6 separate regions of the Homo sapiens genome follow, and all the other regions are linked to region 6. The links come from fine-mapping of genetic effects on gene expression. A gene starts in region 6. Each other region holds a variant in brackets. All regions are shown on one strand. Distances are between the middles of the regions. Region 1 overlaps CAMK1D (calcium/calmodulin dependent protein kinase ID). Region 2 overlaps CAMK1D (calcium/calmodulin dependent protein kinase ID). Region 3 overlaps CAMK1D (calcium/calmodulin dependent protein kinase ID). Region 4 overlaps CAMK1D (calcium/calmodulin dependent protein kinase ID). Region 5 has its middle 71 kb from the start of CAMK1D. Region 6 holds the start of CAMK1D (calcium/calmodulin dependent protein kinase ID).

Region 1 (5,146 bases), 480 kb before region 6:
GATCACATACAGGTATATACATCTTTTTTTTTTTTTTTTTTTTTTAACAAACTGAACAGTGTTTGGTCTGGAATGTGTTTAAGGAAAAGGCAAAGTTCGCAGAGTGTGGGTAGACAGAATAGGGAAGAAGTACAGTTTCAGAAGAACATGCAAAGGTTTCGTGCACTGGCTGAATTCAAGGACCTTCAATTAATTTGCCAGAAGTGATTGTGCAAACCTGGGAAAGAGGACATCTTACTTCTGTTTATGAAAAACGGGAGGAGCTTCCCTTTGCCCGCACTTGCCTTCCTTTCTCATATCCAAAGGAATCCCAGTCGTGTGCTTGTTAAATTCTGCGAAGCAGCGAGGGCTCTGGCTGAAGCTGCGGCAGTGGCCCTACTTCCACCTTCAGCCCTAGAGCAATGGTTCCAGCGTGGCCTCCCCAACGCGAAGACTCAATTCTGGCCAAGGTTCTGGGGGAGAGGGAGAGGTGAGGGGCCACGATGCTTTCAAAAATAAAGTCTACCTGCACTGGGATATCATCTTTCCTTTCTGTTTAAAAATGCTCATAAAATAGCAAGCCCCAGTGGGTTAATCAGGTTAAGCTGTCATTCCACAGGGGAGAGGATCAATCCACTTTCCAAAGGGGATCACCTGGGCTCCCCCCATTCCCCCCACCCCGTGTGCCTGGTGTTCTCGGCTTCTGTCCCTCCCACCTACGATTCATCCAGGGCATGATGGACACTAGGGTAGACAGATGAGTGGGATGAGTACGGGGTAGGTAAACCGAGTCCGGGGCTCCCTAGGCCAGATTCCTTTCATCCTACTACAGATATTTCCTATGAGCCCAGCCTTGGCCAGCATGGCCATCTTTTTTGAGACGGAGTCTTGCTCTGTCACCCAGGCTGGAGTGCAGTGGCACGATCTCGGCTCACTGCAACCTCTGCCTCCCGGGTTCAAGCGATTCTCCTGCCTCAGCCTCCCGAGTAGCTGGGATTACAGGCACGCACCACCATGCCCAGCTAATTTTTGTATTTTTAGTAGAAACAGGGTTTCACCATGTTGGCCAGAATGGTCTTGATCTCTTGACCTTGTGATCTGCCCGCCTCGCTCTCCCAAAGCGCTGGGATTACAGGCGTGAGCCACTGCGCCCTGTCCACTGTCCATCTTCTTTTGCTCGCTCTATCCTGACTGCCGGGGCCCTGGACACTACACAAAGAGCTAGCTGGAGAGTGAGACTCTCTCAAAGGCCAGCGGTGGCTCAGAGACTCTACACCGTTCTCAAGGTCAGATGCTAGAAGTGACCAGAATTGTGGCCATGGTCAAGAACGCAAAGCCACTCTTCCTTTTTTTAACTTTGTATGGCACGCTTTGCCATAGCTCTTTTCTTTTAAAAGAAGACCTGAAGGGGTAGAATGTTTTCTAGTCTCCGACAGAGGCAGGGGTAGGAGGAACTGGTGAAAATCAGCCACTGTGCACTGCCAGAGCCGTGCATGGTCCTGGGGGTTGCCATTTCTCTAACACAGCAAACCCCGTCTCTCCTCAAGGGCTTTGGTGGTCATTGAGCTTCTCCTAGGTGTGCCCTGCGCCTCTGCACCACTTCATTCTGAGGCTCCGGACCCGTGTGCCCGCTGGGAAGCAGAGCCGTAGAGAGGCAGACAGCTGCCCAGACTCCAGACTCCAAGGCCACCTCTGTGAAAAGGGCCAAGCTGCTGGCCTGTTGGTGCCCGCTCACTGTTTGTCTCAATGAATAGAAACTCCTCCTATTGCCTCACGTATGAGATGAAGATCCGGGAAGCCAGGGAGCCCAGACAGGCAGCTGAGGGAAAGGCCACTCCAGGCCACTACTTCAACATTGAATACTCCAAGTGAGGAAAAGAGAATCCACTTGCTCTGAGAAGGGATAGTGACCAAATGGGGGACTTGGGCTCAGGAAGGAAGCCTGTGATGGGGTCTACGCGTCCACCCTTAGCCTCAGCCCAGCACCCTGGGTGCATGTAGAAATGCTCAGCCTCTACAGGTGGACTCTGACCTTGGTGCGGGTCCTAGGACTCTGAGACCCCATTTGTCAGACCTTCACGAAAGGCACATTCTAGGTTCTCTTCCTGTTTTATAAGAAAACAAATCATACCAAGCGCAGTGCAAAGACAACCTCTTTTTAACATGAGAGCTCTCTCAAAAGCACAAGAGCGCCTCTCTTTCTCTGAAGCAATAGGAAATTAACCCAAGCCTGGTGGGATCAGGACAGTACAGGCTTCCTGATGTCATGCTCAACAGTTGACTCTTGGGCTGAAACCAGTCACTGTCTCCTCGCACGATGTTGTTGAGACCCGGCGTGTGACAGGCCAAGCATGGCCAAGAACTGACCCGAACAGCGAGGGGGGCACCTGCACCACGGCTCACCTTTCAGAGGTTCTGCACTTTTTGGGTGAGGGATACTTTCAAACTAAGTGCATATAACATGCACCACATGTATCTGCTCCTGAAAATACTTCAATCACCAGTAATGGAACTCAGC[T/C]TCAAATGCTGCTTTCTGAATGCAAATGGTTGTATATAGCACACAGCACAAAGGGCTATTCATCACTATTCATGTACTCATCCTAGGTACCAGATTCGGGTGCATTTTCAGCGCTTGCAGCCTTCTATTACTTTGTCATGCACTGTATGAACTCGAATGTTTCCAAGACACTTCTTAGTAAGCAACCGCCTAGTTCTCCAATACTGCTTATAATATTCATTCATTGCATGGCCAACTCAGGTGACACTTGCTTCTTAACTGGGTCTAATGTCATCTTATAGACCTTTCCAGGGTTTTTAGATTTTGCAGAGTGACAGCTTGATTTTTCACCCTGTGAGCATGCGTGGCAGATGCCATGCAGAATTCCTGCCAAGCAGTGGAGTGCCTGTGAAGTGTGCGGGGACAGGGTAGACCAGCTGCCTGTCTTCCCAACTGCTCTTCTCTGTGCCTGCACTGCCATTCTCAGGGAGCAGGATGGAGCTGCTGTGCCTAATAACATTGTGTGTGTGTGTGTGTGTGTGTGTGTGTGTGTGTGTGTTTATTGAGAGGGTGGGGGGGCATCACTCAACATTCAGCCTGTACATACTCAAAGGTGTAGAAGTGACAAAGATGACTCAACCAACAGGACTTCCCATGACTGGCCAGCCAGAGGAAGAGGGCATGAGGACACAGCCAGCAGCGTTACTGGGTCGTGATGACGCAGACCTGCCGGGACACCCCCGTGGGCTCGAGGCATTGGATGGGCCTGAGAGCTGAAGCAGGGGCACTTGCAGGAATGGCACTTGAAGCCACCTGCCTGGCTTTACAGGGCAGCCTCCTGGAAGCCTCCATGAAACGCAGCTTTCCCTGGGCCACACACTGCCTGGCTCCACAAAGGCGAACAACACAGCCTGCTTTGCCCCGGATATTCCTGGTTTTGGCATTAAATGTCCACAGCCTGAGAAATCCTTCAGTCTCGGGCAAATGGGACGTTTGGTGACCCTACCACCATGTATCTTTGATTTTAGACTCCCCTGACCAATGGGAGGGCTGCAAGCACTGGCTGGGCCTGGCGGAGGTGGTCTTTGGTCATCTCTGTGGTGGCTGAAGTCCCATTAGCCTGGCAGGGCCCCCTCTCCTTACCACCAGAAATGGATCCTTTCCCAAGGCTGCTTCCCTCCCTTCCTTCCCTTGGAAAACATTCATGTGAGAAGAGGGTAAAAATGTGGAGAAAGAACTTTGTGTTGGAGGCCACGTGAAGTGTAAGATTAGAAATGCATTTTTTTAAAAACCACAGAGAAAGAGATGAATTTTAACACTGCATAGCTGAGCTTTCATCTGTTAGCTCTCGTGAGAAATGAGGGTTGTGTGTGGGCCCACTTTCAGCAACATGGCAGCTGGTTCCTTTTGCAAGGGAGGGTCCTGCATCTCTGCAGTGTGGGCATCTCACTCACAGCAAGTCTGGCCTGTGAAGCTGAGCCCTGCGTCTCGGGGGAGCAGGCTTATTTCTGGTTGCTGATGGCAAGAGGCCTCTAGGGTCTCTGGTGGGTGTGGGTTCTGCTGGATGGGTTGCCAGCAAAGGCTCTGTGCAGATTCTCTACCAAAGTCCCCCGCAGAGAAGAGAGCCTCGCAGAACTGAGGGGCCCCTCCTCCTGGGGAAGGGGAGAGAAACAGAAGGAGTAGAGGTGAAGGGCACTCTTAGCCTTGGAGACAGATTCATGATCCTCTTGTTAGAATTTTTTTTTTTTTTTTTGAGACAGAGTCTTGCTCTGTCACCCAGGCTGGAGTGCAGTGGCACGATCTCAGCTCACTGCAACCTCCGTCTCCCGGGTTCAAGCAATTCTCCTGCCTCAGCCTCCCGAGTAGCCGGGACTACAGGTGTGTGCCACCACGCCCGGCTAATTTTTTGTATTTTTAGTAGACGTGGGGTTTCACCATGTTGGCCAGGATGGCCTTGATCTCCTGACCTTGTGATCCGCCCGACTTGGCCTCCCAACGTGCTGGGATTACAGGCATGAGTCATTGCACCCGGCTGATCCTCTTATTAGAATTTTAAAAAATACCTTTAAATTCTCCTTTGAGGAAAAACAAATCTCTTAAAGGTTAACATAAAACTACTATTAAAGAGGAAAAGATATAGGTCATGTAACTTAGAGATACAAAGGACATACTTCTTAAAAGGAAAAACAAACCCTAATGCACAATATTTACCAATATTTAAATAATCCAGTTGAAACCTTTTTTTTTTTGTCATTAATGAAAAAACACACCATAGACGGTTACCTACACTGAGAAGAGTGGAAACGATGGTGTTAGGGGAGAGGAATAAGAAGGTCCGTTCAGTTAGAGCTTTGCAAGATTCGTATATACAGCACCAGATCCTATGAAATCAGCGCCCCTCGAGTCAGTACAGTTTGTGAGAAATGAACACTTCAGAATTGCAGTAGAAAATATGGCCATAAAAAAACTTCGGTCTTCCAGTCCTATGCAGGAAGGGGCACCATGCAAGGTGGGGTCTCGCTGGAGTGGCTCGCGGCTCTGGCGACCCTGGGGCTCCCCTTCCCCAGCCCCGACCCCGGGCCCCACCTCCAGGGCCAGTCACTTGCTTCCAGAGTGCACTGCCGTCACAGTGGTGGGCCTGGGTCTCCGCTCGGCTCCAACTCCTGAGAC
Region 2 (5,146 bases), 150 kb before region 6:
CTGCAGGAGCCCATGGACCTAACCCTGAAAGGTTGGCCCAATCATCATGGAAAAGGGGGAAAATCATTTTGTTAGAAATCACAAAAGAAAAACCCCCAAGCCAGTCATCCCTGCAGTTAATCCTCGCATCAAATGTGTTCATTCATAAAGGGTGGAGTCAGCTGGCTAGGTCTGGCCCAACCTGAATTTTCTGTGATAAGATCTCCACTCACAAACGTCCCGCCCCTCTCCCTGGGAGCCCGCTCTTGCCCACTCCCTTCTCTCTCACAGGCCCCCCTCTCTGCTCTCCCTTCTTCTGGCCTCTTCGCCTCACCTGCTCTCTCCTCCCTTGTTAAAAGTAGCCCAGGCTGCCAGACAGCTGTGACACACGCCAAGAGGGGACCTGCTTCTCAACTGTAAACCTGGTACCCAGGAGTTGTTTTACGTTCACTCATGTCGTTGAACGCATTTAAATACACTACACGCAGCCACCTGGCCACATCAGGCGGGGCGAGGAGCAAATGCTCCTCCCAAAATCCCAGCGGCACAAGTGCACACACACAACACACACAGACTTATACGTCTACCCACATACATATATGCACCCACACGTACATATATACACATATACACACATGCACATGCATATATTCACCTATGTGTGCACATGTATATGTGTACACACGTAGGTACATGCTTGCATACATAAGCACATGTATGCACATATACATACACGTATACACAAGTATACACACATGCACACACACACACATGCATATATACACGCGTGCATGCGAACAGCCTGAAGGGGCAACAGTGCACAACTGATGAAGCCTGTGCCAATGGGGAGAACGTGGAGACGCCACCATTGCGAAGGCAACACTGGACTGGCAAAGGCAGTGAACTGCACCCTGCAGTGAAGATGGGCTCCAAGGAGAAAATGAGCATGGCAAGTAACACACCTTCCAGGGTCGCAGGCACACCATGGGACTCAAGTCCCAGCCAGGCACCGGGTCCTACACACACCTCCTTCCCAGCGCTCTGCCTTCACCCTCTCTCCACGCCCCCACTGCCAGCCCTGGGCAGGCTGACCAGCCTTATACCTGGAACGAGAGTGGCCATGGCTAAAGAGCAAGCATCCTGGTGTCCGAGGGCCCGGGCTAAAGCCTGGCACTGCTACTTCCAGAACAAGGCCTGGGGCAGGTGAAGTGTGTGTGACAGTGTGTGTCCCCTCCTCTGTATGGTGGAGGTAAATGATGGTGTCTGCCTTGCGGGGCTGCTGAGAGGACAGGCTGAGGTTTCCCATGGGATGCTGGTCAGTAGAGGCCAGGTCCTGCGGCCGAGGACCTGCCTTGAACCCAGCGCTGCCCACAAGCCAAGACGCCTCATCGCCCTACACCTGATTTTCTCACTGGTAACCTGAGAAACAGGCCAGGATTGGCAATGCTCCCTCCAGCTTGCACGGTACATCACCGCCTGATTTTCCATTCCCTGGCTGGGTTCTCCTTCCGTTGGACTGGCCTTTCTCTGCCCCATCTTGCCCAGCACCATTGAATACCTTCCTAAAGCTCTGCATCCATCACAGCATCACTCAGCCCACGGTCTGCGATGTCTCTCATTCCTTCGGTCCAGACTGCCTGCTGCTCCCGGCACAGAGCCTCCGCCCTATGACAGGTCCTCCTCACCGTGCCACCAGCTCCACACTCGTTCCTGACCCTGAGCCTGTGCCTGCCCTGGTGGCTGCCTGCCCTGGTGGCTGCCTGCCCTCCCTGCAGCTGCCTCAGTTCTATCCCAGCTCAGCACAGTCCAGGCTTCCCCTACTCTCCCTAGGGCCTGCAGCTCTGAGCACTCCACTCTGCCGCCAGCTCCCCTCCATGGAGGTCACAGCAGCACTGCTCACCAACTGCACACACCACTCCAAAAGCATCAAATGGCTTTTGGGGACCACACCCTTGAGACATACCAGGGTTCTTAACCCAAGCACCCCTGACACTCAGGCTGTATAATACTTTAGGGTGGGGAGGCTGTGCTGTGCATTAAGGGATGTTTAACAGCATCCTCGATCTCCGCCCACAGACACTAGAAGCGGCACACACAACCCCCAAATGTTTCCAGATGTCACCAAATGTCCCCTGGCGGGAAAAAAAATCACTCTCAGTCGAGAACTGCTGGAATATGCGTATCTCCGCAGATAAGCCAGGAATTCCTGGTGAACAGAGTCCACATTCTTCATTTCTTTTTATTTCCTCCGAGCCCCTAGCACAGAGCCGTGCATACAACAGACACTATGTAAATACCTGAAAGGAATGAACACAGGAATGAGCACATGGTGAGGCCCATGACATGGCAATCCGGCAGAACAGCGCTGAGCACACGCACTCACGCCCCAGGTAAGCAGAGGCTTCCACACACCTAAAGTCCCCCTCGCCCCTCACCAGATGATAAACTAGCATCAGAACTTCTCAATCTCTGCAGCTCTTAGTGAGTTTCAGCCAGTGCACAGTGCTCTGAATATACAAGGGCTCAATAAAAATGTGAAGACTAAGTAAATTCTGCCCCCAGGGCACTATTTATAGGAAAAAGAAAAAGAAAACTAAAATAAACAGGAAATTGCTACAACCCACTTAGGCTGGGACTACCAAGTTCCATTTTCCCTGTGTTTTCCATCATTGCTTTGTGAGCAGAATGGAGTGAGTTGAGGGCGAGGTGGAGTACGGGAAAGGGGATGGATTTTGGAGTCCGGTGGACAGGGATCTGGGTGCCAGATATACCCATGATTAGCCCAGAGGTCTTT[G/A]GCACGTTGCCTCTGGAAGCTTCACTTTCCTCATCTGTAAGAGGAAATATAACACCAACCACAGGAGGTGATTGTGAGGCTGCACTGAAGCAATCTATGCGAAAGTGTTCACACAATAGGCAGTTAATAACAGCACAGTTTCCTCTTCTTCATGCTAACAAGAGAATTTGATCATGTCATTTTTAATCAACAAGTAAGAGGTGTACAACATACCTGTGTACTTCACTGCTAAGTCCCTTGCAAAGAATCCACACTTCATGTCTAATAAAAAGGAGGTTGATTCAAGGACAAATTGGCAGAATGCCCAAGCCTCTTTAGCTGGATAATCTTATCTAAACTGAAGCCCAGAAAGGTTCAGCAACTCGTCCAAGGTCACAAGGCAAAGGGTGGGGTCAGGCTTCATAATCTGATCTTTTCTACTGTATACCTCAACTTCTTACTTTTCCAGTAGAATTCTCAATCTCTGGAATGGCATGACACCCAGCCCTGGCAATGGCAGCAAAGGCCCCTCCATGCCCGCAGGGAAAGGTTCCTGGTGCTGGCTCCCTGACACCACCAGAGCAGATTAACCCTGGGCAATGCTATGTCTCACTGACCTCTGGGCTCAGTGAGGTCTAAGAAGAGGTAAGCCAAGCCCTGGACAGGTCCCCAAAGTGACTAATTCTGACCCAGGAGACAAAGAAAGAAGTCAGACAGCGTTTTTTGTGGGTTTTGTTTTTGTTTTTGTTTTGTGTTTTTGAAACAGAGTCTTGCTCTTATTGCCCAGGCTGGAGTACAGTGGCACAATCTCAGCTCACTGCAACCTCCACCTTCCAGGTTCAAGCGATTCTCTTGCCTCAGCCTCCCAAGTAGCTGGGATTACAGGCACCCTCCACTACGCCCAGCTAATTTTTGTATTTTTAGTAGAGACAGGGTTTCAGCATGTTGACCAGGCTGGTCTCGAACTCCTGACCTCAAGTGATCTGCCCACCTCGGCCTCCCAAAGTGCTGGGATTACAGGCATGAGCCACCAAATGTGGTCCAGACAGCTTTCTTCTATACTCCACAGACCCAAAGACTATGCCTTCTTGGAGCATCCTGGTGCTGTCATGGTCCTAAATGATCCGTGGACGGCTCCTCTTCCTGTCATTCCCTCTCCTTGAATAGACCATGGCCAGTGTCAGTCTCCCCCAGAGCTATGGTGAGGTTCCAGAACTCTGCTTGGCAGAGACACCCTGTTATGTAACGGGGCTGCTAACTCCCACCAATCTCTTGTGAAAGACTTTCCTCAAAGCAGCTAAGGGCAGACAACCAACCAATGACCTTGTTCTTCACTGCCTGGTCTGCTCTAAAGTGAAAATCCCTCTCTCTCAAGCACTTGTGTTGAAGAAGAGCAGAAAAATAGCCTTCCTTTGTGTGCTTCCAGCCAAATCCTATCATAAAATCCTGTGTGTGCCACCTCCCAGACACTGAGCCTCCTTGGAAGGGATTCGGATCTGGGGGGAAATCAATCCTAATGCCTCAGGGCCAACCACATCAAAGTGTTTATTTCTGCCTTCGGTTCTGACACATCTTTCTTTTTTCATTTGATTTTTTTTTCAGAAGGAACTGGAAGGTAAGAAAATCATGAAATATGCATGCAGATATGGATTGTGGGCAGCAGAGACAAAGCAGGATTCTTACCAGAATGAGAAAAGAGGGATCTGCTCCTGGCAATGAAATGAGACCCAGGACCGTCCATTTGCATCTTACTAAGGTTACTAAGTGACCTCATCAGTTCAGCCTCTGAGTACTGAGATTGGTAAGAAAAAAACCACATAGGAAAGAACTGCCCAGGAAGCCTTTATTTTCCTGGTCTCATTTCCATTCCTCTTGCTTCTAGCTCATTAATCAGCAAACAGCATATATGATTTTAAAGCACTAAGTTCAATATCGATGCAAAAAAAAAAAAAAAAAGCTGTAATTTACAAGCCAAGAGAGTAGATTTCAGGTATGACCCAGGGGAAGGCATTTGCAATCTACGCCTTGTTTTATCCACTGCTAAAACTGCTACCTAAATTCTATTGTGTAAATGAACAGAAATCCTTAATTAGATGACATTCTATGGAAGAAACAGCTCTATAGACAAAGCAAGGCAATATTATTATTGCTTCTCTTCATTACCTCTTCATCTGCAAAGTACTAAATTGAACCCCCAACAAGTTTGAATGTAAAGAAGTAGGGAGTTCATGGCAACAATGACTGTGATGATGTCTTGGGGCCCCAAGGTCTGAAGATCGGCTACTTTGCCATCCTCTCTCACCTTGGAGGTCTGCTTCCCCGTCACTCCCCACAACCCAACTCCCTCTGGAAGCCAGAGTTTCTTTTCAGTTTCATCTCCACTCTTCAAGCAGC
Region 3 (5,146 bases), 32 kb before region 6:
ATTCTAGTCCACTGATCTATACACCAGGACCACACTGTCTTGATTACTGTAGCTCTGTAGTAAGTTTTTAAAGTCATCCAACTTTGCTCTTCTTTTTCAAGACTGTTTTGGCTATTTTGGGTTCCCTGCATTTCCATATGAATTTTAGGATCACCATCTCAGTTTCTGCAGAAAGGGCAAGCTGGGATTTTGAAAGGTATTGTGTTTAATCTATAGATTAATTTGGGGAGTTTTGCTATCTCCACAACATTAAGTCTTCCAATCCATAGACACAGGACGTCTTTCCATTTATTTAAGTCTTCATTAATTTCTTTCAATGATGTTTTGTAGTTTGCAATGTGCAAGGCTTGAACTTCTTCAGTCAAATTTACTCCTAAATATCTTATTCTTATTGATGATATTATAAACGAGATTGTTCTCTTAATTTCTTTTTTTATTTTTCCTTGCTAGCATATACACATATAATTCATTTTTGTATACTGATCTTGGATCTTGCAGTCTTGATGAACTCATTTATTAAATGGAATAGTTATCTAGGTGATTCCTTAGGATTTTCTCTCTACAGGATCATCTCATCTGCAAATAGAGATCGTTTTACTTCTTCCTTTACAATCTGGATACCTTTTATTTCATTTTCTAACTACGCTGGCTAGAACCTCCACTACAAAGTTGAATGGGGGTGGTGAGAGCAGACACTCTTGTGTCGCTCCTGAGGCTAGTTAAGGTAAAGCGTTCATTCTTTCTCCATTAAGTGTGATTTTAGCTCTGTGAGTAGACTTTTTAAAACTATTTGTGTAAAAGGTTATTTTGCTGTTATGTCCATTCATAAAAGGACCTAAGTATGCTTATTTCCCAATACACAACTTCCTTAATATTTAGTTATCTTACAGATTTTCAATATTCTTTATGCTTGTACTAGGTAAGAAAGAGAAAATAACAAGCTCGAGTAATTCTGAAGTTCAAGAAGATTTGAAATGGGCGTATTTAATAAAACCCAATGTCTGTGGTGAAATAAACACCTGCTAATATAAAGTCCAAGCAATGGACATTCATGTCAATTTGACATTTCCCCGAGTTGCAAGTCACTCAATTTACTGCTGAAAAGAAAGGCTTTATTCTGAGCATGTTCTGAAATTCTGTACCAATTTTCCTGCTTCGACATTCCCTGAGTTCTTATTCTGTTGCTCACCAAAGTTAGTTCCACCACAAAAAGCTCTTTACAGTAACAACAACAAAAAAAAAAATTGGAAAGATCTATTCTAATTTTATTTAAATCTATAAATCCTAAAACAAAGAGGGATTTGACACTTAGCTAATTTAATTATTTAGTACCAAATACTTCAGATAAAAAAACTACACCCGGAAACCTGGATTATGTGGTTTGATGCTCTAAACAAATTATATTAGAGCAACAGCTTGGTTAGCTAGAATACATAGAGAGAAGTGCAGGGGAAATGTGTGCACTTTGGAAGAACTGGCTTCAAATCCCAGATCTGTCCATTACTAGCTGTGCTTCCTCAGACAAGTTATTTCTCTTCCATGTGCCAACTACAAAAAAAAAAAAAAATTGCTACTTGCAGGGATGTTGTACAGATTAAACGACACATTTAATCAAAGTGCTAGGAAGGAACACAGAAAGTGCTATTATTACTTGAAGTCATGTTTGTTTGTTTGTTTGTTTGAGATGAAGTCTCACTCTGTTGCCCAGGCTGGAGTGCAGTGGCGCGATCTCAGCTCACTGCAACCTCCGCCTCCCGAGTTCAAAAGATTCTCCTGCCTCAGTCTCCCGAGTAGCTCAGATTACAGAGGTCCGCCACCACGCCCAGCTAATTTTTGTATTTTTAGTAGAGATGGGATTTTACCATGCTGCCCAGACTGGTCTGGAACTCCTGACCTCAGGTGATCCGCCCACCTCAGCCTGCCAAAGTGCTGAGATTACAGGTGTGAGCCACCATGCCCATCCTGGTTTTTAAACTTTTATAGCTAAAATCTTTCTAAACAGTATTAGCATTTTTATGTCTGGGTATGATAATAAACAGACTATAGCACCTTTATTTCTGAGTATTTCATATGAAAGATCCTATGTAAGTTACCAAAACATGCGTCAGGCTCACCCACAAGTACCTTATCATCTAGTATAAACAAGTGTGATGCATACCATAAGGATTTCACATACATTATCATTACAAGATATGACACAGATAAAAGGTGTCCATGGGGCTGACTATATAGTGAGAGGCTGGGCACACATTCTACAACATGGTTTTCATTAATATATTCCAAATATTAGCTCAGACAACTGTTGTTCAACTGTTCTCCCTAAAAGGTGGTACAGCAAGTCCCCACTTAATGTCCAGTCAGTTCTTGGAAATTGACTTTAAGCAAAATGACATACTTGAATATCATCATTTTGTTCAATATCATTTCATTACAACACTGATAAAAAAATGAAAAATTGTGGTTTTGTTACGTCATTTCACTCAAAGTCACAGTTTCCAAGGAAAATGGACTGGTGTGGAAAAACCCACACAATGAGTGTCAGAAGTGTCGTGAGTATATAGCAAAACAGTTTTTTTTTCTTTTAAAACGTTTTACTCTTGCTTTATAGTACCAAGTCACCTAAAACGCCAGGTCTCTGCTATGAAAACTCATCAGGCAACAGCACAGTCGAACTCATCATTTCTACCAATTAAACATGCCCCTGGTACCAGCTAATTGGCACATCTGGGATCATCCAATTAGCAAGACAATGAACACTGA[C/A]CAGACTCCGAACATGAACGCGGACTGCTTCTGTATGCCACGCCACAACCGTCAGAGAACTCAGACTGTATCGTCAATTCTCAGCAGCTTGCACTGTCTTCTTTAAAAAACTTGAGAATTGGCTGGGTGCAGTGGCTCAAACCTGTAATCCCAGCACTTTGGGAGGCCAAGGCAGGCGGATCACCTGAGGTCAGACCAGCCTGGCCAACAAGGTGAAACCCGTCTCTACTAAAAATACAAAAATTAGCCAGGTGCAGTGGCATGCGCCTGTAATCCCAGCTACTCAGGAGGCTGAGGCAGGAGAATTGCTTGAACCTGGGAGGCAGAGGTTGGAGTGAACCAAGATCGTGCACTCCAGCCTGAGTGACAGAAGGAGAATCCGTCTCAAAAAAAAAAAAAAAAAGAAAGCATTATGATTTTCTAGTCCTTCCGACATTTTTTAAGAACCACTACCCAAGATTTCTCCTTGCAGGATTCAGAAGCAATCACCCAAGTCAAGCTGTGACCACCCCAGGAAGGGAACGGCATTCATTCTACAACTTTATAAGGGGCGGGGCCCGCTGTCACTGCTCAATGTATGTACAAAGCTGACCTCCTTTTGCTATTATTTTCAAGACATGACCAGTTCTTTTCATTCCTACTTCCTTTTTTATTTCCAATAAAGGGAAAAGGCAGGCTTTCACCTAAATCAAAATGGAAGAGTCATAAAAATGTACAAGCTACTTCACACAGGCATATACTTTTCATTGATTTCATCTCAACCTCAAACCATTCATTTTAACTCAAAAACAACCTGACAAATGACTAGGCCAATTATATCATTACTAAATGTGTGAGCCTTCAATTAACTGAGAAATGCGTGGGGTTTGTTTTTTTGTTTGTTTGTTTTTGAGACAGAGTCTTGCTCTGTTGCCCAGGCTGAAGTGCAGTGGTGCAATCTCAGCTCACTGCAATCTCCGCCTCATGGGTTCAAGCGATTCTCCTGCCTCAGCCTGATGAGTAGCTGGGACTACAGGCACGTGACCCCATGCCTGGCTAATTTTTTGTGTTTTTAGTAGAGATGGGGTTTCACCGTGTTAGCCAGGATGGTCTCGATCTCTGACCTCGTGATCCGCCCGCCTTGGCCTCCCAAAGTGCTGGGATTACAGGCATGAGCCACTGCGCCCAGCTGAGAAATGGTCTTAAACATATATTGACTTGGGTGGCATCATGATAAGAAAAATCCTTCCCTTTTTTCCGGGCAATAATCACATGAAAAACTGAAGTGCAATTATGTTATCAGCTTCATAAAAGGAAGGATTTGTTTGGCCTCCTTTGGGTTGTCAAACTCAATAATCATTACAAAACCTAGGCTCCAAGTGTGACGAATTCCTTGTAGCCTTAAAAACCTTTACTCTCATATTTATAATCATTGATCCTTTTAATTGGAAGGTGAGACAGTATCATAATAATTGCTCTGCTAGATTCAGAACTAAGGAAAAAGGGTTTCACCTGATGTTCAATCAATCAGCGATGCCTCTTCTTTTTTTTTGAGATAGAGTCTCGCTCTGTCACCCAGGCTGGAGTGCAGTGGTGCCATCTTGGCTCACTGCAAGCTCCACCTCCCAGGTTCACACCATTCTCTTGCCTCAGCCTCCCGAGTAGCAGGGACTACAGTCACCCGCCACCACGCCCGGCTAATTTTTTTGCATTTTTAGTAGAGACGGGGTTTCACCGTGTTAGGCAGGATGGTCTCGATCTCCTGACCTCATGATCCGCCCGCCTCGGCCTCCCAAAGTGCTGGTATTACAGGCGTGAGCCACCGCGCCCGGCCAACAACACCCTTTTTTTTAAAAGTCCTCCCAAAAGATTTATACTGATCCATCCACTTTCTGGCACATTTTTGAAAGATATTTAGCCAGGAGTAGAGTCGTATCTGGCCATGAATCTGAATGGTAAAAACTGGCCTCAAATTAAGTTATTTTATTTTCTTTCATTGATTAATTGATTGATTGAGACAAGGTTTCGCTTTGCCGCCCAGACTGCAGTGCAGTGGCACGATCTCGGCTCACTGCAACCTCCGCCTCCAGGGTTCAAGCAATTCTCCTACCTCAGCCTCCCGAGTAGCTGGGATTACAGATGTGCACCACCATGCCCGGCTAATTTTTGTATTTTTAGTAGAGACAGGGTTTCACCATGTTGGCCAGGCTTGTCTGGAACTCCTGACCTCAGTTGATCCACTGGCCTCAGCATCCCAAAGTGCTGGGATTACAGGCGTTAGCCACCAAGACTGGCCCCAAATTAAGGGATTTTAGCTAACATTTTTGAGCACTTAAACACCAGGCATTAAACAAACAAGAAACTCTGATGATTTATCTCATGAAAACCTCATCACGACCCTAAATAA
Region 4 (5,146 bases), 42 kb before region 6:
TCATAAGCCCCTTTCAAGCATACCTAAGTTTATGCCAATGCGGTGACTCTTGGAAAAGGGGGGCTGGTTACCAGGGGAACCAACCAGGTGATGAGAGAGGGTTGGAATTTGCCAGTCCAGAAAGGGGAGAGGCACTGGAGGTTGAGTCAGTCACCAATGACCAGTGATTTACATCAATCATGGAATCTCCATAAAAACCCTAATTGGAGAGGTCTGGGGAGTTTCTGGTTGGTGAACACCTGGATATGAGGGAGGTGGGGCACCCGGAGAGGACGGCACGCTCCCCTGCTACCTCACCCCACCCTACACCTCGCCCCATGCAACTCTTCTATTTGGCTGTTCCTGAGTTGTATTTGTCATAATACAACTGTAAACATAAGTGTCTCCCTAGATTCTGTGAGCCATTATCGCAAACGATCAAACGTGTGTTGGGATGGTGTGAACCCTCAAAGGATGGCCAGTCGGCCAAAAGCACGAGCCGCAACCTAGGACTTGTGACTGGCGTCTGAAGCGGAGGGGGTGTCGGGAGCGGTCTTGTGGAACTGCCCTCAACCTGGGGGGTCTGCAATACCTGCACATAGTCAGTGTCACAGGTGAATTCTAGGACACACAGGTGTCCAAGAACTGGAGAACTGCTTAATGAGAAGGAAAAACCCACACACGTGTGAGGTGTGGAGCGTAAGCTGCCATTTTCCTTCACCTCCCGCCCTTGATGTCAACACTGTCATCTTCAGGGTAGTGTTCTGGCCGGCATGTCTGCTCAGCCACCGTCCCCACCTTCAGAGCAGGACACTTCCCCATGCCTCAAGTTTGGACACATGCTCACGCGTCCATCATGTCTTCCCCCAGGTGGGCTGGGTGTCTCCATCTCTAAACTCACACAGCATTGATTTGGTCTCTGCTTACAGGATACAGGGAGTGTCTCCCAAAGCTGGGCCTGAAGCTCAACTCAGCCACTTAATTCGCTGAATGTCCCTGGGTGAGAAAATTAAAATGTCTGACCCCATCTCACTGAGGTCAGGAGGACAGATGGTGGTAACACACATCTAAAACGCTTGCCGTGTTTTCCATTCTTTTCACCCATAACACTATGAGTTCCTTGAGTGAAATGTTTTTGCCTCTCTCAGAGAGCCTAGCACCATGAGTTGCATTCAGTAGGAGCTAAAAGAAAATGTATTCCTTAAAAAAGGAAGAAAAGGCCAGGCGCAGTGTCTCACGCCTGTAATCTCAGCACTTTGGGAGGCCGAGGCGTGCGGATCACAAGGTCAGGAGATCGAGACCATCCTGACTAACATGGTGAAACCCCATCTCTACTTAAAATACAAAAAATTAGCCAGGCATGGTGGTGGGCGCCTGTAGTCCCAGCTACTTGGGAGGCTGAGGCAGGAGAATGGCGTGAACCCGGGAGGCGGAGCTTGGAGTGAGCAGAGATTGCACCACTGCACTCCAGCCTGGGCAACAGAGCAAAACTGTGTCTCAAAAAAGAAAAAAAAAAAAAAAGTTATGTTTCAGATCCATTCATGACAGTCGATGAGCAGTCAGTTGTAGCTAAGAACCTGGTCCAGATCAGGGTATGTGTGTGTGTGTTGTGTGTGTGTATACTTTCAAAACTAGGAAAATTTGGAAGAAAAATTGAGGCTTACTATGTTTAAACTCATCAAAATTTCTAATGAAGTTGTTTTTTCACTAGAATGTAATATGGTGGTTACCTGGGCCTGGGGGTCAGGGGGTTGGGGAGACTTTTGTCAAAGGATACAAAATTTCAGCTGGGAGGAAAAAGTTCGAGAGATCTATTGTACAACATAGTGACTATGCTCAATAACAATGTATATGCTCTCAAAAATTGCTAAGACAGTAGATTTTAAGCATTCTCACTACAAAACAAGTATGTTAAGTAATACATATATTAACTAGATCAATTTAGTCATTCCACAGTGTATACGTATTTCCAAATAACATATGGTACATGATAATAAATAAAAAGGAAGAAAATTCTGACAAATGCTATAATGTAGATGAACCATAAGGAAATTATGCTGAGTAGAATAAGGTAATCTCAACAGGCTAAGTACTGTATGATGCTACTTATGGGAAGTCCTTAGAGTAGATAAATTCAGGAACAAAGTAGAATGGTAGGTGTCAGGGGCTGGGGGGAGAGGGAAGGAGGAGTTGTGGGGGTTTTGTTATGTTTTTTGTTTTTGATTTTTGATTTTGTTTTGTTTTTTTGAGACAGAGTCTTGCTGTATCACCCAGGCTGGAGTGCAATGGCACCATCTCGGCTCACTGCAGCCTCCACCTCCTGGGTTCCAGTGATTCTCCTGCCTCAGCCTCCCGAGTAGCTGGGATTAAAGGTGCACACCACTGCACCCGGCTAATTTTGTATGTTTAGTAGAAACGGAGTTTCACCATGTTGGTCAGGCTGGTCTCGAACTCCTGACCACAGGTGATCCACCACCTTGGCCTCCCAAAGTGCTAGGATTATAGGTGTGAGCCACCATACCCAGACTGTTTGTGTGTGTGTGTGTGTGTGTGTGTGTGTGTGTGTGTGTGTTTTAAGACAAGTCTCGCTCTGCTATCCAGGCTGGAGTGCAGTGGTGCAATTACCATTTATCTGATTTTCAAATCATTTCACCATTTTCAGTTATATGAGCTGTTAATGACAGTAACTATCCCATAAATTTAGTATAGATACCCCAGATTGTTCTGAGGGAGAAACTCTATTTTGAGTCCTGGATGATTCGGTTCTAGTCTTCCTAATTTCCTTATGCTTGCCATTACAGTGCACTGTATATGGCACTGTGAGGAAGATAGAATTCTTATTCTCAAATTCACCTGCTGGTACTGTAAGGACATTTTAACAGACCTCCTAAATTTAACCGACTAGGGTGTTTTGTTTTTCTTTAAGAAACATTTGAAAATCATCCTCCCGAAAGGGAATATTTTATTCATGCCAGTTTAAGTAGTGACAGGAAAATATTCAGTACTTAAAATGGAATTTTTTT[T/A]AAAAAAAACGGTCAGCATGAATTTCCACAGGCATCTGGAAAATTGGCAAAAGAATTAAGAATGTGAAAAGCAACCGGTGATCCCAGCTGGGGTGAAACTGCCTTCCTGTGGAAACCCTGAATAGAAGATAAGCTTCTAAGATTGATTGCTTGATGTATTTTCTTCACGTGTCATACCGACCTAAGACTGCTTTAGGAATTCCCACAGACAATCCCCTGGAAAGTTAATTTACATAGTGATTCCAATTTAATCAGAGAAAAAAAAGCGCACACCTACAGCTTGTTCCCAGGGCCCCACACGAGCTTGAAGTTAAAGTATTTTATTTTGTATTGAGAATAACAAGAATCCAGGCAAAGATCTTAAAAGTTCAATCTTTCCCCTCTACCCTTCATGGCCAAAAGACTGAGATACCAACGTATCATGGCCTGAGAAAGGGTTTTCCTCATTCACGAGAGAAGACAGTGTTGGCCCAACACTGAGCTCTGGAGTTTTTGCCAGAACTGAGCTTGGACCCCTTCCCACCTCCTACTCACTCAATGCTGGACTCTGAGCACATTAGTTGACCCCACACAGAATCTCATCAAGTTGATTCATAAAGTCAGGACTATGCACAGCATCCTCTTATTCACGCACGCTTGAGCCTGAGTTCATTCTGAATCTAGTGGGCCAGAAGGATGGCTCCGTGGGGACAGCTGGACCCGTATTCCAGGCTTGGATAGGTGACTCGCTCACTAGCTGTGTGATCTCAGGCAAGTCCCTCAACCCTTCTGGGCTCCCCTTTCCTCTTGGGTCCTTTACACGTTCGACTAGAAGCTTCTGCTCCCACGTGACATGACCCAAGGGGGAACACACAGACTGGAAACAGGCAGGCTGCACAAGTCCCGGAGCTCATGGTTAGCCCTGGCCCTGCACTCTTACCTGGGTTTTGCCTGGGCACAATGGACCCTATTCTACCCTCAACTAGTTGTAGGATCTTGAATAATGGGGCTTAACTTTCTGTGCCTGATGATAAAGACAGTTTAGAGACAGACGCAGAGACAGATATAGTGACAGAGATAAAGACAGAGACAGAGCTAGAGATACAATGTCTCTTCTAGCTCTAGAATTCTACTTATATGAGAAATTCCTTCCATTCTGAATAAAACAGAAACTAAGGTTGAGCAAAGTGGCTCGTTCCTATAATCCCAGCAATTAGGAAGCTGAGACAGGAGGATCACTTGAGGCCAGGAGTTTGAGACCAGTCTAGGCAATGGAGCAAGACCCCATCTTTTTTTTTAATTTTTAAAAAATAGAGACAACTACTTTATAGTTCTTCGGCCACTGGTGCAAATCACTAGCAAATGCAGTATGAAAATTTTGCATCAGCCTAGAATAAGGACACCGTGCAGTACAAGCGCTTTATAAAAGGTAAAAATATGGGAGACACAGGACTATTCATTCCTCCAGAACAGTTTATTGGTCATGCACATGTCCTCAAATTAAATTCCCCCCAAGATCACCAGCCACCTCCAAAAGTTAAACTCACCTTGCCCCATGGGGCAGGACCTCCCATGCACAGCACAAAGATGACCCACAGGAAAAATAGCCTTCTCTTTGAGGCTCAAGGAGATGTTCTACTACAAGTGCCTATGATGAATTCATCCCTTCCACTGACCTAAATGCAGACAGAAGGCATCAAAAAAAAAAAATCAAATGACAATCCAAAGCCACAGATTTTGTGACCATTTTGCTCTCAATCCTATTCCCCAAAAAGGAAGCACCTTCAGACAGTAGGTGACAAGGACACTGTGTCCAGAGAGGGCGTTTTCATCTAACTACAACTTTCAAACTCACGGCCATTAACATTCACCCAAAATAACTGGACGGTCGCCAACCAGGAAAGGGCACGTTACTAAAACCGGCCCTCCAGCCTCCGAGAGGCTCAGCAGAATTCTGCTTGCTGTGAGTAGGGAAGGAAGCAAGGTCTGTTTATTCTGCCAACGTGCAGAGAGGCACAGTAACTAGGTCACGTTCTCACTCAGGCCTGGATGAAACCACCTGGATGCTCCAAGCCCTCGACCCTGTGGTGCTGGGCAGAAGCTGAGTCTCCTGCACTGAGCACCTCTCCTTGAAGCCTGAAGACACCTCTGGCCACGCACCCCAA
Region 5 (4,755 bases), 71 kb after region 6:
GAGAATCACTTGAACCTGGGAAGCAGAGGATGCATGAGCCAAGATGGTGCCACTGCACTCCAGACTGGGTGACAGAGCAAGACTCTGTCTCTAAAAAAAAAAAAAAAAAAAAAAAAAAAGTTGATATATTAGAATACTATTTAGCAATAAAAAAGAAAAACATGCAATAACATGCATAAATCTCAAAATTATTATGTTGAGAAAAGATGCCAGACACAAAAAAGTAAATACTAAATGATTGTACATCTGTAATATTCTAAAACAGGCAAAACTAAAATATTGTGATAGAATTCAGAACAGTGGTTGCCTCTGCTGGGAAAAATTCACTAGAAATGGGTATGAAGAAACTTTCTGGGTTGATGGGAATGTTCTTTATCTGGACTGGGCAGCTGATTACACAGGTGTACACAGACGTCAAAACTCATCCAACTGTACACTTGACATCCGTGCATTTTATTGTACAAAAATTATACCTCTTTTTTTTAAGTACTGGAAAAGAGTACAAAGAAAGAATTGCCTATGTCTTTTCTTTTTTTCTTTTTTCTTTTTTTTGAGATGGAGTCTCGCTCTGTCGCCCAGGCTGGAGTGCAGTGGTGCCATCAGAGCTCGCTGCAGGCTCCGCCTCCTGGGTTCATGCCATTCTCCTGCCTCAGCCTCCTGAGTAGCTGGGACTACAGGTGCCCGCCACCACGCCCAGCTAATTTTTTGTATTTTTAGTAGAGACAGGGTTTCACCATGTTAGCCAGGATGGTCTCAAACTCTTGACCTCATGATCCGCCCACCTTGGCCTCCCAAAGTGCTGGGATTACAGGTGTGAGCCACCGCGCCCAGCCTGCCTATGTCGTTTCTTCACTCCTAGGCTTAGTGTTGCGCTCAATTTAACCAAGCCCTTCAACCAGCTAGAAGGCCAGCTTTGTATGTATTTTGCAAGAAGCTCCTCATTAAGCTGTGAGTCCTGTCTTGGGGAGATTTATAGGAAGGTGGATGTTGACAAAAGGCCTGAACTCTTCCAATACTTCAATTAAGATGCATTCTAGGCCAGGTGCTATGGCTCACCACTGTAATCCCAGCACTTTGGGAGGCCAAGGCAGGCAGATCACGAGGTCAGGAGATCGAGACCAGGCTGGCCAACATGGTGAAACCCGGTCTCTACTAAAAACACAAAAATTAGCTGGACATTGTGGCAGGTGCCTGTACTCCAGCTACGTGGGAGGCTGAGGCAGGAGAACCACTTGAAACTGGAAGGTGGAGGTTACAGTGAGCCGAGATCACGCCACTGCATTCCAGCCTGGGCAACAAGAGTGAAACTCCGTCTCAGAAAAAAAAAAAAAAAAAATGCATTTGAGAAATATCCACTAAAGAAGAGAAAGGCCAATAGCGAGTCAAGAGAGAGCAAGAGCTGTTTTGTTGGTGTAACTGGGATGGAATCCACACTAGAGCCGGTGGAGGCGTGAGTGGGTGGTGGGGAGATGATGAAAGGCTGGATAGTGTGAGACACGGATTGTGCTGGTTACGAAACAGCCTTAAGTATGTTCGGCATAGACGCAACAGCAAACATCAATATACACTTATAGCAGTATTTTTTAACCAACTAGAAAGAGTAGGGGGACACAGAGGCAGGAAAAAAAATAAAATAAAAAATTAGGGCCGGTAATTACAGGCTCACACCTGTAATCCCAGCACTTTGGAAGGCCAAGGCAGACAGATCGTTTGAGGCCAGGAATTCCAGACCAGCCTGGGTAACATGCCAAAACCCCATCTCTACACAAAACAGAAAAATCAGCTGGGTGTGGCGGTGCACACCTGTAGTTCCAGCTACTCAGGAGGCTGAGGTGGGAGGATCACTTGAGCCTGGGAGGTTGAGGCTACGGTGAGCTACGATTGCAGCAGTGGCTCACGTCTGTAATCCCAGCATTCTTGGAGGCCGAGGCGGGCAGATCACTTGAGGTCAGGAGTTCAAGATCAGCCTGGCCAAATGGCGAAACCCCATCTCTACTAAAAAATACAAAAATTAGCCAGGTGTGGTGGCGCATGCCTGTAATCCCAGCTACTCAGAAGGCTGAGGAAGGAGAATCGCTTGAACTCAGGAGGCGGAGGTTGCAGTGAGCCAAGATCATGCCACTGCACTCCAGCCTGGGCAACAGAGTGAGACTCCATCTCAAAAAAAAAAGAAAAAAGAAAAAAAAGAAAAAAGTGGTGTATCTGACTATATGAACTTTTAAAAATGTCAAAAATAAAAAATCAAACTATTAAAATGCAAACTGACCAGGAAAAATATTTGTACCAAATCTGACCACAGCATTAATATCTTCATTACATGAGAAAAATCCTTATTAATTGGTTTTTTAAAACTGTCTCCAGGCCGGTCATGGTGGCTCATGCCTGTAATCCTATCACTTTGGGAGTCCGAGGTGGGCCAATCACCTGAGGTCAAAAGTTTGAGACCAGCCTGGCCAACATGGTGAAAACCCATCTCTACTAAAAGTACAAAAATTAGTTGGGCGT[G/A]GTGGCACACACCTGTAATCCCAGCTACTCAGGAGGCTGACGCAGGAGAATTGCTTGAACCTGGGAGGCAGAGATTGCAGTGAGCCAAGATCGCACCATTGCACTCCAGCCTGGATGCCAAGAGCGAAACTCTATCTCCAGTGGGCCAGGCACGGTGGCTCCCACCTGTAATCCCAGCACTTTTGGAGGCCAAGGTGGGTGGATCATTTGAGGCCAGGAGTTCAAGATCAGCATGGCCAACATGGTAAAACCCTGTCTCTACTAAAAATACAAAAAAATGAGCTCGGCGTGGTGGCATGCGCCTATAATCCCAGCTACTTGGGAAACTGACACACGAGAATCATTTGAATGCAGGAAGTGGAGGTTGCAGTGAGCTGTGATCGCGCCACTGCACTCCAGCCTGGGCAACAGAGTGAGACTGTCTCAAAAAAAAAAAAAAAGCAAATTTAGCTGGGCCTGATGGCGTATGCCTCTGGTCCTAGCTACTGGGAAGGCTGCAGTGGAAGGATCCACTGAGCCTGGGAGGTTAAGGCTGCAGTAGACATGATTGCACCACTGCACCCCAGCCTGAGCTACAGCCCAAGACCCTGTCTCAAAAAAAAAAAAAAGAAAAAGAAAAAACAAGGCTCTAATGAAAAAATGGGAAAAGGACATAAAGCTATCATTCAAAGAACTATAACCAGTAAACAAATACATAAAATAAGGCTCAGTTTTTCTTTTTTCTTTTTCTTTTTTTTTTTTTTTTTTGAGCCAGAGTCTCACTCTGTCGCCTAGGCTAGAGTACAGTGGCACAATCTCAGCTCACTGCAACCTCTGCCTCCCGGGTTCAAGCGATTCTCCTGCCTCAGCCTCCCGAGTAGCTGGGATTACAGGCACCCGCCACCATACACGGCTAATTTTTGTATTTTTAGTAGAGATGGGGTTTCACCATATTGGCCAGGCTGCTCTCGAACTCCTGACCTTGTGATCTGCCCACCTCAGCCTCCCAAAGTGCTAGGATTACAGGCGTGAGTAACCGTACCTAGTCAAGGCTCAATTTTTCTAATCAAAAAAGAAGTTAAAATATTAAATTTTCATTTTGCTACTAAATCAGCCAAACAAAATTTTAAATTAATATAACTATTACAGCTGGGCGTGGTGGCTCACGCCTGTAATCCCAGCGCTTTGGGAGGCCAAGGCAGGCAGATCACGAGGTCAGGAGATCAAGACCATCCTGGCTAACACGGTGAAACCCTGTCTCTACTAAAAATACAAAAAATTAGCTAGGCGTGGTGGTAGGTGCCTGTAGTCCCAGCTACTTGGGAAGCTGAGGCAGGAGAATGGCGTGAACCCGGGAGATGGAGCTTGCAGTGACCCAAAATCGCACTACTGCACTCCAGCCTGGGTGACAGGGTGAGACTCCGTCTCAAAAAAAAAAAAAAAAAAAGAGTTCGAGACCAGCCTGGCCAACATGGTGAAACCCTGTCTTTACTAAAAATACAAAATTAGCTGGGCATGGCGGCGTGTGCCTGTAGTCCCAGCTACCCAGGAGGCTGAGGCAGGAGAATCACTGGAACCCAGGAGGCGGAGTTTGCAGTAAGTTGAGATTACGCAACTGCACTACAGCCTGGGTGACAGAGTGAGAGTCCATCTCAAAAAAAAAAAAAAAACTACATATATATATCTATATACACACACACACATATATATATAAAACTGGCAAGGAAGGACCTTATAGATGGAGAGCATATAAATGGAGAATATAATTTACATATTGTAAATCGGCATAATTCTTTTCAAAGTTATTTTGGCACAAGACCTCAACAGTCATCAAAATGTTCACACTCTTGAACCCACTTGTTTACAGAGTCAACAACATTACAATGCAGACAGCCTATGCGTAACAATGCGATGTTTCTTGTAGGGTTCATTATAATAAAAACAACAACAAAAAGGCAGTAATTTAAAGGTCTAAACAGACAGAGGCTGATTAGGCAGCTTGGTTACGAGTTTAGAACCGGGAATCAAACATGGTGAGAAGCCCAGCCCTGGCACTAACAGGCTGTGTTACCAATGGCTCTCGGAAATTCCTCATCTGAAAAAACGATCATGCTATCACCTGCATCCTAAAGTTGTGAGGATTAGATGAGCTAATGCATGGGCTCACACGGCATTCAACATAGCATACAACGAACATAGTACATGTCAGACTTTTTTTGTTTTTGAGACAGAGTTTTGCTCTTGTTGCCCAGGCTGGAGTGCAATGGCACG
Region 6 (4,000 bases):
CTGCCAGAGAAGCGCTCTGGCACCAGAGGGCAAATCCCCATTTTTCCCCAAGGTGGAAACCACCCACAGTCATCTCCAAACACCATGCTCCAGCAGGAGCCACAGCTTGGAGCCTCAGCAGCCCCGCCACTGCAGAGGTGCAGCTGCACGAGTCAGTCAGGGGACAGGGCATCAGTCACCCGGAGGCTACAGGCAGGAAGCCAGTGTGGGGGGCTCGGGTGGGAACAAGCCACGGACAGGAAAGCATTCACACAGGGTGGGTCCCCATGCTCTCCCATCTCCTCATTGGCGGCCACAGTGCGGGTCCTGGATGACAAGCAAAGGCCATGCTTTCTTGTCTCTCAGTAACTTGAGCATCTCAGAATCACAACCCCAAACCCGAATAAACCTCAGTGGCAATTTTCAAAAGTTTTGACCCAAACTAACCCCTTACCTGGCTGCACTAAGAGGCAACCCCAAACCCCTATTTATTAAAAAGCTACATCTTTTTCTGTTTTCATTCCAACAAAGATAGCAAATAGGTGCCCTCCCTGAAAGGCAACAACCACAGCAGGGAGACCCCACTCTAGTCCTCAGCGTGCGCCTTCCCGGGAATCAGAAGCAGGACTGGGAAAGCCACCCTCACAACTTCTCTCCGGGGGACCCCCTGCAGATCTGCGTGGGGGTGAGGGGAAATGACTGAACAGCAGCAGACGCCGAGCCTGGAGGTGAAGACAAGCTGGGTAATGTGGTGCTGGAAAAAAGAAACCAAGCACAAAAACAAGCACACGGAAAAAAAGGAGGAAGGAAAGAAAGGGCACCCAACAACGCACTGATTTATCCCATGAAATAGCTCCCCTTTCTCTTCCCAGCCTAATCAACACCTCCATGAACCCCTGCAAAATGGGCATTTCTGACTGCACACCTGTGCGTGAATCCACACTGACAGATACTGATGCAGAGCAAATACTGATTGTGTGAGGGAAGGAAATAACTTGAACTTCAGACTCATTCGGCAGGTCCTGATTCTCTTTCACTATCAGCCTCCCCACCTATTCTGAGCCGCTCCGAAACAAAACAAACAAGACCCAACTCCTGGGCAGAAAGGGAACAGCAGCTGAGCTGAGCAGCACATGCTTGGAGCGTTCCTGCCATCGACTTCGGATTATTTCTGCTTTCTTGAGACACAGCCATCAGCATGGGACTCGATGCAGCCCGGAGAGAGCACCGCCCGCGCAGCGACGCGCACAGACCCTCCCTTGGAGACGCGCTCCCCGGCGCGTGCGGCCGAGCCCGCGTGAAATGCACAGACCCTCCGGTGAGGCTCTGCCCACGTGTGACCCTGAGCACTGCGAAGCCCTTCCCTTCCATCCTCGCGTGGCCACCCAAAGTCTTGCCTACACCTCGTACGTGCAGATGCCAATTCCATAGAAATACATGATGTAAGGACAGAAATGGGAACGACTGGAGGCTGATCTTCTCGTGACCACGTCTCGCCAACGCGGTGCGCCCATGCACACGGCGAGTAAACGCACACAGCCGGTAAACAGCCATCCCCACCATGCTCAGCCCACAGTCACGCGTGGGGAGAAGGCAGCGGAGAGGGCGGCGGTGGCAGGAGAAGTGGGAAGTCGCGCGCCCGCGTGGGCTGCTCCCTGACAGCCCGGCGCTGCCCCCTCCCCCTCCCGGGAACGGCGCCCACCCGGGGGTCGCAGGCCCACGCGTCGGGCGCGCTCGGGGGGGCTCCGCAGCGCCGAGAACGGGACAATGAGGACGCGGTGACAGGCTGGGTTTCTGCCGCGGTAGTGGCGGCGGCGGCAGCTGGAGCTGCCCGTGCAGCCCCTGCCGCGGCCACCTCCACCCTCGCCTCCCCGGTCCCCACTTACGTTCCGAGGGTCTCTTTGAACTCGAAGATCTTCTTGATGTCTTCAGCTTGCTTTTTCCAGGAGGAGCTGCTCTCGCCGTTCTCCCGGGCCATGGCCGACGAGCGCGGCGCGGAGGAGCGGCCGGGGGCGCGCTGGGGAGGGGGCGCCGGGGGCGCGGCGCGGGCGCAGAGGCGGCGGGGATGCCGGGCGGCTCGGGCTGCGGCGCAGCTTCCTCCTCTGCAGTTTCCTCTTTCGCTCTCGCCGCCGCCGCCGCGGCCGCGGTCCCTCCCTGGCTCTTATTTCTGCTGTTCTCGGGCACAGACTTCCTGCCGCCGCCGCGCGCCGGCTCCTTTGCCGCCGCCTGCCAGCCTCACTTTCTGCTACTTTCTTGCCTCCCTCCCGCTCCCTCCCTGCCGCCCGCCGCGCTCCCCCCCACCTCGCGCCTCCTCCCCCTCCTCCCCCTCCTCCCCCTCCCGCGGGCTCCCCGCCCTCTCCGTGCGCCCCGGCCGCTCCCCGCCTCCAGCGCGCCGCCTTCGGGGATGTCCCGCTCCCCTCCCAAGAGCGCCGGGCCACGGCCGTCGTGCCCCCTGGAGCCCCGGCGAGGGCGGGTACGGGCCCCCGGCAGGTGCGGGGCGCACGCGGGAGAGCCCCAGCCCCTCCGGGAGCTGGAAACGGAGCCCAGTCTGGGGGCGCCGGGGCTTTCCCGTCTCCGGCGGGAGGGGGCGCCTCTGCGTGGCTCGGAAGCGCCGGGCGGGCGGGGGTGCGCGGCGGCCGGATGCGGGGCGCCGAGGGCGGGGCGCCTTCCCGCGCTGTGGCCTGTGGCCCGGGGGACCCGAGGGGCAAGGCGTGGGGTGGGGGGGGTGGGGGCCGGTTGTTATGGCGACGGGCGGCGGCGGCGGCTGGGATGGAGGCGGAGGCGGGCGGGAGCTCATTCGCATTGCACCAAATCGGTTTCACGTCAGTTTCGGGACAGACCCGCGAGGAGCAAGCCGGGGAGCCTCTGGGCGGGTACGCGCAGGACGCGCCAGCAGCTGCCTCGTGGTCCCTTTGCGAGCAAAACTCCCGGGGGTGTTTGGCAGCCGCGCGGGCGCCCTGGTGCTGGGCTGGAGCGGCCGGCGGGCCTGGCCGGCCTGGTTGCCCTGGCTCACGCTTGGCCCCTTCTGGCATCTCCCTGTCTCCTCCCAGAGACTCAGTGGAAAGAAGTGATCGTCTGCCCCGCAGTCCCCTCGAAGGAGGAGCCCACCCGCGGCTGGCTTAGTAGGGTGTCCGGGTTGCGGGGCAGGCACCTGCTTTCCTATGGACTGCCAAAACTAACCCAGAGAATTCCCTCCGGACTCCCATCTCCCAGCTGTACTTTGGCCTGCCCGCCCCACTCCTGGTGTCCACCTGTCAGAGGGCAGCCCACGTGCTCCAGTTCCCTGGTCCCCAACCTGCAGGGGCGACCTCTTGATCGGAAAATTTTAGATTTCTTGGTATCAACACTTCGCCTCCCTCAGGGCCTCTCCTCGTAGTTGGGTAAACAGCTCTGTCTCTTGACTGGGGACACCTGTCCCATTTTCCCAGGACTGTTCCAATTTCACTGTAAAAGGAAAAAAAAAATCTGCTCCCTGAATAGGAAACTTCATCCAGCACCTTGTGCCTAGTTCTGACTCTGGCTGAAGTGGAGGCAGCCCAGCTGCTCTCCCTCAGCCCCTACTCTGACCCTAAAGAGGTCAGACGACACCCTGGCATCCCCATTCCTGGGACCTCCATGCTAGTTTCCATCTTTCAAAGACGGTTAGCTTAAGGTTTTCCAAACTGAGAAGAGCAAAGAGGGGATTTACTTGCCGGTTAGATGTAGAATAAATCCACAAACCCAATTTCCAACACGGATGGGTGAGAAGAATTACTAAGGAACCTCTCTTATACTTGAGGCACATTACCAAAGTTCAAGGCAAACAGCATCCCCTTCAATAAGAAACATTTGAAAAACTATCATGTATTTTACTTGTGCCAAAGGTTAGATAATACAAACAGTGGGAACCAGGGCATAAGTCAACTAAGATCCCAACTGTCGCTTTCTCATGCCTACAGTCAGCATCTTCTTGTCCTTTCTTTCTCCTTCCCTTCCTCCCACTGTGTTTCCTTCTCCTCTTTTCCTATTTGGTTCTCTGCTA

The links. PIP is the estimated chance that this variant, and not a neighbour inherited with it, causes the effect. A credible set is the group of variants that fine-mapping cannot tell apart.
Region 1: its variant is the best candidate, but not a certain one, in a credible set for the expression of CAMK1D in blood mononuclear cells (TOPMed, PIP 0.69).
Region 2: its variant is the best candidate, but not a certain one, in a credible set for the expression of CAMK1D in whole blood (TOPMed, PIP 0.88).
Region 3: its variant is the best candidate, but not a certain one, in a credible set for the expression of CAMK1D in whole blood (TOPMed, PIP 0.88).
Region 4: its variant is the best candidate, but not a certain one, in a credible set for the expression of CAMK1D in whole blood (TOPMed, PIP 0.62).
Region 5: its variant is the best candidate, but not a certain one, in a credible set for the expression of CAMK1D in whole blood (TOPMed, PIP 0.72).

Annotation. Positions count from the first base shown.
Region 1 is chr10:12,828,816-12,833,961 of GRCh38, reverse strand. It overlaps CAMK1D (calcium/calmodulin dependent protein kinase ID), which reads right to left. Exons shown (of 11, transcript NM_153498.4): 11 at 1-5,146. The coding sequence ends at 5,075. Among named protein-coding and RNA genes, the nearest start is that of MIR548Q, 110 kb to the right of the region's middle. The variant T/C (reference allele first, on the strand shown) is at 2,498.
Region 2 is chr10:12,498,632-12,503,777 of GRCh38, reverse strand. The region is part of intron 1 of CAMK1D (calcium/calmodulin dependent protein kinase ID); the gene reads right to left. Among named protein-coding and RNA genes, the nearest start is that of MIR4480, 78 kb to the left of the region's middle. The variant G/A (reference allele first, on the strand shown) is at 2,774.
Region 3 is chr10:12,379,360-12,384,505 of GRCh38, reverse strand. All of the region lies in intron 1 of CAMK1D (calcium/calmodulin dependent protein kinase ID), which reads right to left. Among named protein-coding and RNA genes, the nearest start is that of CAMK1D, 32 kb to the right of the region's middle. The variant C/A (reference allele first, on the strand shown) is at 2,761.
Region 4 is chr10:12,389,382-12,394,527 of GRCh38, reverse strand. All of the region lies in intron 1 of CAMK1D (calcium/calmodulin dependent protein kinase ID), which reads right to left. Among named protein-coding and RNA genes, the nearest start is that of CAMK1D, 42 kb to the right of the region's middle. The variant T/A (reference allele first, on the strand shown) is at 3,003.
Region 5 is chr10:12,276,184-12,280,938 of GRCh38, reverse strand. No RefSeq gene overlaps it. Among named protein-coding and RNA genes, the nearest start is that of CAMK1D, 71 kb to the left of the region's middle. The variant G/A (reference allele first, on the strand shown) is at 2,506.
Region 6 is chr10:12,347,776-12,351,775 of GRCh38, reverse strand. It overlaps CAMK1D (calcium/calmodulin dependent protein kinase ID), which reads right to left and starts at 2,229. Exons shown (of 11, transcript NM_153498.4): 1 at 1,866-2,229. The coding sequence starts at 1,957. RefSeq lists enhancers at 1,081-1,240, 1,415-1,914 and silencers at 1,951-2,040, 2,211-2,770, 2,811-3,070.